2 separate regions of the Homo sapiens genome follow, and region 2 is linked to region 1. Evidence: fine-mapped expression QTL. A gene starts in region 1. The other region holds a variant in brackets. All regions are shown on one strand. Distances are from middle to middle. Region 1 holds the start of AXIN2 (axin 2). Region 2 has its middle 23 kb from the start of AXIN2.

Region 1 (4,375 bases):
AAGGCAAGAGCTGGGGACGGCAGGGGGACACTGGAGGTGTAAGACACAACCTTCCAAAAACCCACTCGGCCAGGGCGCACGCAGGGCAGCTCAGCCCGCGCCTCGCCTTCCCTCCCTTCCCCTCCCCCGATACCATCAACTCCAAAAAGGCGCACTCCCAGCCGCTAGGCTGTGTGCAGGTGAAACCAATTTCGGTATATTTCCCCACTCGGCCCTGCACAGATAACTCGAGCTCCAAACGTGCCCTTCCCCGGCATCTGGTTCCCATTCTCCCCACCCACCCCCTCCCTCTGCGCTCCCTCTTCCCACTCCTTAAAAATTCAGAAGATCCTGGCCCAAGAGAAGCCCGCCCAGCATAGGCGGATTGGGCTCCCGGACTCCCAGATTCAGCACGCAAACACCCCCTCCCCAACTCAGATTTGAGTGTTCGCTACGCGCCCCCTACCCCCACCAAGAATCCAGCTCAGTCAACACCTCTGTCTTCCCTGACCTCCCCCCAAACCAGAAACCAACTCACTCAGGGGAGACTTTCATCTTCAAACTTTGAGAGAGAGCTGAGAAGCCTCGGAACCGTCGCCCCCGTGCCCCCAACCCACCTCCCGGATCCGCGAAACCTACAAAACTGGATCACCAGCCGTCTCACGCCACTACTGCCTGTGCCAAGAATCCCAAACTCTACTGATTTCAAGCCTGTCTTTTTTCCAAAGAAAAAAGTCTTATCTAACCAATAAACAAGCTGCTTTCCCTAGCACGGAAAAGATCAAACTAAGAAGGGTAGGGGCTGAACGGGGTGCAACCCCGGGCGAGAAGCCAGGGACCCCGGATCTGGGATGGGTGCACGCTGAACCCGACCAGAGCCTCGAGCCGCGGGGCTGGGCGGCGCGGCCCACGGAGAAGTGGGGCTGCCGTTGGCACCGCGCTACCCGGGCGGTGGGAGGTGGAGCGGCCCCGTTACCTGGAAGACGAAGGCCGCCGAAGCCAGGCTCTCATGTCCTCCGAGCCCCTCCGGCCCGGTCCCCCGGCCCAAATGCAACTGAACGCCTCCAGAGCCCTGGCGGGCACACCTCGAGGCCGGAACCCCGGGACACGCCAGCAGCGCCCCGAGCCCGGGCGGGGGGTCGGTCCCCGGCGCCGCCGTTTGCAGAGGCGCCCGCAGAAAAAGCACAGAAAGCAGCAGCCTAGTCCAGAAATGGCGACGCGCGGAGTCTCTGCCTCTCCGCAAAAGGGGCCGGGGCGGCCACGGGCGAGGGGCCCGGGCCGGGAGGAGGGACGCGAGGGACACGGGCGCCCCGGACTTGGGCCGGTCCTGCGCGCAGACTGAGCCTCCGCCAGCGCTGTGGGCCCCTTAGCGCGGACCCGCGGCAGGGAGGGGAAAAGGGGAGGGGGAAGAGAAGTAGGAGGAGAGGATGGGGCGGAGGAGAGGCGGGGGGCGGGGGAGGGCAAGCGGGGGGCGCCGCTACCCTTTCATCCCACCTCCCAAAGGCACTCCCGCGCGCACTCACACGCCGACTCACATCCATAACCGCGACAGCGACGCGACCCCCGGGGGGTATCTGCCCCCTCTCCGCCCCCGCCACTGCCGCCACTCGGATAAGTCTCCTCTCTGGGCCCCCCGCCAACCCGGTCACCGCGCTGGGGAGGGGGCTCCGGCGCAGGGCGCGCAAGGCTGCCCGGCCAAGCCCCCCGGAACGCTGGGCGCCGGGTCCGCCGCTCCCCTCCGCGCCGGCCCCTAGCGCGCCCCGAAATAGCCGGCCTGCCAACTTCAAAGGGCCGCCCCGCACATCAAAGCGCGCGGTCCGCCCGGCCGCCTCGGCCTCGGCACTCACCATTGATCCCCGCGCGCGCTCGGCGGCGAGACCTCGCAGGCGCCCCTGGCAGGGGCCCGGCCCCGGCCCCCGGCTCGGCTCGCGGCGGCAGCCCCGGGCCCCCCCGGGCCGGCCGCGGCGTCGGGGAACATGGGGAGTCGTGCGGCGGGGGAGGGGGTGCGGGAAACAACAATCCCGGGTTCAGAGCGAAAGCCACCGGCCGGGGAGGGGGAACGGCGCGCCCCGCCGCCCCTTTTATGCAAAAGATCCGAGCGGGCCTCCGCCCCCGCCCGGCCCGGCTTTCAACGCAGGTCCTGTTTCCAGCAGTCACTCGGCGCACCAAATGTCCTCCGGGCGCTTCCAACAAAAACTGCGCTGTGGATTTAACTGTGCACTTCAAAGGCGCGAGCCGAGCGCACGGTCCTGAAAGGGAGGTACGCGCCGGCCGCGCCCCGGGCCGCCCCCCGCAGCCCCGCCACCGCTCCGCAGGGCCGCCCCGCCCGCGCCCCCCTCCAGGCCCGGCCTCCGCCTGGCCGGGCCCCCTCCCGCCCCCCGCGCCCACGCCGCGGCTCGGCGCGACCTCGCCCCCTGTAAGAGGGGGGCTTTCTTTGAAGCGGCTCCGCTGGGGCCGAGCTTCCACCCCCACCTTTTACAGCAGGGCCTTCGGCGGGCGCCTCGGCCGCCGGGCGGCCCCGAAATCCATCGCTCTGAGGGGTTATTTTTATTTCCCGGCTCTCGGGCTGTTACTGAGTTGCCAGGACCTTATCAAAGCGCAGCCGGCTCCAGCCGACTCCCCCGGGCCAGGCTCGCGGAGCCAGTGATCCCGCCGCGCCAATCACAGCCGCGCTCGGCCGGCCCGCGCCGCCCGCCTTAAAGGGACAGCGCCCCGCGCCCGCCCCGCCCCGCCCCGGCCCGCCCCCGCCGCACGCTCCGCTCCCGCGTTAACCCTTCCCCGGCCTCTCCTCCGCCCCCTGCCAGCCCCCCGCGGCCCCGAGGGCATTCTCAGCCCGAGTTCTGATTTCTTCTTTTAAGTTCTCCGGCCTCTTTGCTCCCGCCTCCTCCCCCTGCCTGCCCTCGCTCTCCCCGGCTCTGGAATGCAACAGTTTCTGGTAGCATTATGGCCATCGCAAGAACTGCAAGCAAGCAGATTTTTTTTTTTCTATCATCAAACGCTTTTCTACCTCTATTCAAGTTTCCCTGGGAATTTGGGCTTGGAGGACTTTATAAAGGGAGTTCCGGCCCTGGGGTTGGCTGGCCCGCTGTCATAGGGCGGACTCGGGCCCAGCCGCTGGAGGCGTGTGCATGCCTGTGCGCGCTTGTGCACGTGCATCTGAGTTCGGGTAAATATAGGACTGCAGTTGGTGGATGAATTGCGTTTGTGCATGTGTGAAAGTGGGGTGTGAATCCGCCAGTATAGGCCTGAGTGCTAACACCAGTTAGGAGGCATACCTCAGTGCCCTGAAGACCTAGGTCCAGCTTCCTAACCTGCTGGCCATAAGACCCTCGTAGCGGCACACATTGGCCATCTCTCCCAAACAACTGCATACCCGTTACTCTTCCAAAGTCCCCTCTTCTGCCATATGTTACATATTAAACCGATAGGAATATCTTTTTTCCCACTCCAAACGACAAGGCATGCATGCCGTTTTAATGTATCGAAAACTCCTCACCCCATTGTCACCTTTGAATTTCTCCCACATTTGCCCAAAAACGTTTATAAGGCACACACAACCTTCTCTTCTCCGTTAAAATGAGAAAATATGTCACAAACCCAGAGCATTGTGTATTTATTCTGCTGCTGCTATAGAATGATTCCTTATGTTATGAGCGAATAATTAACTTTTCTTCCTTTTAAAAAACAAAGGGCCGGGGACGGTGGCTCATGCCTGTAATCCCAGCATTTTGGGAGGCCCATGCTGGAGGATCATCTGAGGTCAGGAGTTCGAGACCAGCCTGCCTAATATGGCGAAACCCCGTCTCTACTAAAAATACAAAAATCAGCCGGGTGTGGTGGCACGTGCCTGTAGTCCCAGCTACTCGGGAGGCTGAGGCAGGAGAATCGCTTGAACCTAGGAGACGGGGGTGGGGGGGTTGCAGTGAGCCAAGATGGCACCACTGCACGCCAGGCTGGGTGACAAAGCGAGACTCCCTCAAAAAAAAAAAAAAAAAACACACACACACACACACATAAAGGTGTGAACCAAAGAGATCCAAGAAGTGAAAGGCAGAGTCCTGGCCTCAGAGCTGTGCAAGGCTCTTACTCTCCAACTTAATGGATGACGAGCCCTTTTAAATGCGAGATGGCCTGTCATTAGGCCTTCAGAACTTTAAAACATGCAAGAATTGTGGCTCTATCTAGGTATCCATAGAAAAAGAGAAGGAAGAGGCTGGGTGTGGTGGCTCACCCGTGTAATCCCAGCACTTCGGGAGGCCAAGGCAGGCGGATCACCTGAGGTCAGGCATTCGAGACCAGCCTGGCCAACATAGTGAAACCCTGTCCCTACTAAAACTACAAATATTAGCCAGGCGTGGTGGGGGGCGCCTGTAGTCCCAGCTACTCGGGAGGCTGA
Region 2 (4,375 bases), 23 kb after region 1:
TCTGTTCTTCACACTTCCTGCTATCTCAGGCTCTTGGCCAGATCTGCGGACTTGAAAGGCACAGCAGAATGGCCTCAAATGTTCTTCCTCCTGGATAAAATGCACACAACCACGCTTACCTGTCTATTAGCGGACTTTCTTCCTATTTGCCTGAAATGTGGATTGCTGAACAGAAGAGGCCCAGGATGAAGTGGGAGAGAGGGACCGAGGAGAAAAATGGGAGGAGTATGGACTCTTCTGGTTTTTTTTTTGAGATGGAGTCTCGCTCTGCCGCCTGGGCTAGAGTGCAATGGTGCAATCTCAGCTCACTGCAACCTCCACCTCCTGGGTTCAAGCGATTCTCCTGCTTCAGCCTCCCGAGTAGCTGGGATTACAGGTGCCTGCCACCACACCTGGCTAATTTTTTGTATTTTTGAGTAGAGATGGGGTTTCACTATGTAGGCCAGGCTGGTCTCGAACTCCTGACCTCGTGATCCACCTGCTTCAGCCTCCCAAAGTGCTGGGATTACAGGCGTGAGCCACCGAGCCCGGCCATCTTCTTAAAGTCTAGCTTAGCGCACCCACCAAGCCTAGTGCACCCACCACCATCTCCCTCCAGGCAGACAGGTTTGATGCATCCCAAAGAAAACTGGCTTTGGTGACCTCAAGTCTGGGCCCATATCCCAACTTCAGCATTTAAAAGCTGTGTAAGGCAGTGGCTCACCTGTAATCCCAGCACTTTGGGAGGCCGAGGCAGGAGGATTGCTTGAGCCCAAGAGTTCGAGACCAGCCTGGGCAACATAGCCCCATCTCTACAAAAAAAATTAAAAATTAGCCAGGCATGAAAGCTTGCACCTGTGGTCCCAGCTACTTGAGAGGCTGAGGCTGGAGGATCGCTTGAGCCTGGGAAGTCAAGGCTGTAGTGAGTTGTGATAGCGCCACTGTACTCCAGCCTGAGCGACAGTATGAGACCCTGTCTCAAACAAAACAAACCCAACTCTGTGAGCTTGAGCAAATTTCTTTTTTCTGATTTTTTTTTTTTTTTTTTTTTGAGACGGAGTCTCGCTCTATCACCCAGGCTGGAGTGCAATGGCATGATCTTGGCTCACTGCAACCTCTGCCTCCCGGGTTCAAATGATTCTCCTGTCTCAGCCTCCTGAGTAGCTGGGATTACAGGTGTCTGACACCACAACTTGCTAATTTTTGTGTGTTTTTAGTAGAGATGGGGTTTCACCAGGTTGGCCAGGATGGTTTCGAACTCCTGACCTCAGGTGATCCTCTTGCCTCAGCCTCCCAGCTGTAATCCTCAGCTGGGATTACAGGTGTGAGCTACCACACCTGGCCTAGCTTGAGCAAATTTCTCACCCTTCCTGGGCTTCACTTTTCCCAGTTGCAAAATGGGAATAAGCCGTTCTGTTACGGGAAGGATAAAAGGAGAAATGGACATAAAGGTCCATGCATACCGCAAGTGACTTTCTTCATCTTAGGGAGTCAGACTGTGGCTGCCTTCCCCTCCCGCTCCCCTCTGGCTTCCTCCTGGGAATATGTCCCTCCCAGGAGGCTGGTGGGGGCTGGGCAGTCACCCCAGGCTAGGGGGGCATCCACCTTGCAAACCCTTCCATAGCAGACTGACTGCTTGCTTTGCAGACTGTCAACGGGCAGCGCAGTCCGGGCCCAGGGAAGGGCTAGTGGCAGCTGCAGCTCTGCGACCAGGCTTGGAAACACGTGTCAAACCCTATTCCAACCAGATGAGGCTGGCCTGCTTCCAATGGCCGCTTTCCATCCAAGGTCTGGCCAAGGGGAGCTTTGCCCAGATCCCCTCCACAGGCAGCCCAGGCAGCAAGTCCTATTTGTTCCCCTGAGTCCTCGGGTCCAGACTGACAAGCTCACCTCTCTATTCCGGAGGCTCTGTTCAGAAGGTCCAAGCCATGAGTCATGCAGCCCTGCACTGCTGGGGAAGGTGGGAAGGGTAGGTGCAGGCTCCAGGGCACACAGCAACTGGAAGAAGCCATCTGCCCATCCTGTAGGTATGGTCCTCTCCCTGACAAGGCTGGTCCTCTCCCTGACAGGCAGGGGAAGGAGCTGGGTAAAAGAAGAGGACGAAGAGATGCTCTCCAACCACCACAACATGGGGCAAACATAGGCCTCCTCCAGCGAAGGGAAATATCCCATATGCAGCAGATGGGCCTGAGGCAGGTGGCCAGAGAGCCAGTGACTTCTCTTTTTGCTGCTTAGAAATGGTGGCTGAAAAAAACACACATGCCACCACCACCCAAAAAAACTAGAGAATGCAGCATACCAGCAAAGAGTCACAGAAGGAAAGGAAATCCAAATGTTTTGAGTTTAGCTATTAAGCATAGTTTCCAGCGAGTGTACTCATGTCTTGAAATGAAACAGATGAAAGCAACATGTGTCAATGGTTGTAGGAAGGCAATAATGTCATCAACAGGAAATAAAGAAATTGAACACTGAAGCCTCAGCCCAGAACTTAACTCTTCTCTTGCCCAGGTCCCCAAGGCTTTCTGCATGAAGACTGAGGACACTTCCTGCAAGACTAGGTCACTGCCTCTCTCCACCTGCCTGGAAGGTCCTTGAGGCACC[C/T]CCTGCAAGGATCACGAGCACCTGAGAAGGACTTGCTTTGTTTCTTAAGGGATGTGGCCTTGGAAGAAAGGGAACCCCAAGGGACCCTGGCCCAGCTGAAGAGGAAGCTGCACAGCCTCTCTCTCCATGAAGAGGCTACAAAGCCTTGGCTGTGGGATCACAGTTCCTGGCAGGGACAGTGCTGGCTGCTGGAAGAGCCAGCAAAGCCAAGGCCAACGTGCTGGCACTAAAAGGGCTGGTGGCGCCACCAGGAAGTCCCGCAGGCCCCAGGAGGCTCTGATTGCTGCTCAGGGCCCAGAAGCTAGGAGATCCCTTCTTAGCCAACCCCCCAACCCGAGGCAGAATGCAGAGCGCATACACGGGCCCCTCTGGCCGATCCAAGAGAACCTCAGGAAGAGCAGGGACTTTGGGCCTTGGAAGGTGAGGCTAACGTTCACATGCCTTGAGAGTGGCCGGGATGACTCTTGCAGGCCAGTCTCGCTGGTTGCTTTTATCTCTGATGAATCCACCCTATTTGGCTTTGGGGGTGCCTGACTCACTGTTGACATTGTATGTCACTTGCAAACAATTCATAAAACTTAAATATCAAACAGATCACACTGGATCAAATAGATCAAACAGATCAAGTGGGATCTTGGAGTGAGAGCATTCATGAGTTCAGTTTCAGACCTGGCCTTAGAGCTTTTAGGTCCAGGGGTGCTAGACAGCACCATGGGCTGCACCTGTTCTCTGCATCAGAGTCCTGGGGGAGGTCTACACAAAGCCGGATTCCAGAGCTTTTCTCTGGAGACTCAGGAGGTCAGGCTGAGGGGTCAGCAGCTTAGCCCAGTGATTTTTAGACCACCCTGGATCAAGATAGCCTAAAACAATGGATGTAATTGTCATTACATACAGGTAAAATTAATGGACAGAAATGCCTCAATTCTTTCTCCCATAATTAAGAAAAACCAACCCTAAAAAATATTTGGTAGGTCTTGACACTGAATTCTAGAACAGGATCTTTGGTATTTGCCCAGAAATGTACATTTGGGTTTACTGTACCCATGTGCATTAGTCAGCTTGGGCTGCCATAGCAAAACACCATACACTGGGTGGTTAAATCACAGATATTTACTTCTCACAGTTCTGGAGGCTGGAAGTCCAAGATGAAGATGCTGACGTCTTTGGTTCCTGGTGAGGGCTCTCTTTCTGGCTTGCAGAGGGCTGCCTTCTGGCTATGTCCTGCTATGGCTGAGAGACAGAGAGAGAGCAAGCTCTCTGGCATCTCTTTTTTTTTTTTTTTTTTTAGATGCAGTCTCACTCTTATTGCCCAGGCTGGAGTGCAGTGGCACGATCTCAGCTCACTGTAGCCTCTGCCTCCTGGGTTCCAGCGATTGCCCTGCCTCAGCCTCCCCAGTAGCTGAGATTACAGGCACACGCCACCACGCCCGGCTAATTTTTGTATTGTATTTTTAGTAGAGATGGGGTTTCACCATGTTGGCCAGGCTGGTGTCAAACTCCTGACCTCAGGTGATCAGCCTGCCTCAGCCTCCCTAAGTGCTGGGATTACAGACGTGAGCCACTGTGCCTGGCCTTTGTGTCTCCTCTTATAGGGGCACTAATCCCACCATGAGGGCCCCATCCTCATGACCTCATCTGAACCTAATCACCTCCCAAAGGCCCCATCTCTGAATATTGGGGGTCAGGGCATCAACATGGGAATTTTGGGGAGACAGATTGGGTCCATAGCACCATGTTTCATGGAGCTCCTCTGGGAGCATCACCAGGTTGTTCTGACCCACATGTCAGGTGCCTG

What was found. PIP is the estimated chance that this variant, and not a neighbour inherited with it, causes the effect.
Region 2: its variant is the best candidate, but not a certain one, in a credible set for the expression of AXIN2 in whole blood (INTERVAL, PIP 0.50).

What each region holds. Positions count from the first base shown.
Region 1 is chr17:65,558,999-65,563,373 of GRCh38, forward strand. AXIN2 (axin 2) reads right to left here and starts at 2,650. Exons shown (of 11, transcript NM_004655.4): 1 at 2,452-2,650. RefSeq lists a silencer at 2,664-2,813.
Region 2 is chr17:65,582,343-65,586,717 of GRCh38, forward strand. No RefSeq gene overlaps it. Among named protein-coding and RNA genes, the nearest start is that of AXIN2, 23 kb to the left of the region's middle. RefSeq lists an enhancer at 1,158-1,692. The variant C/T (reference allele first, on the strand shown) is at 2,581.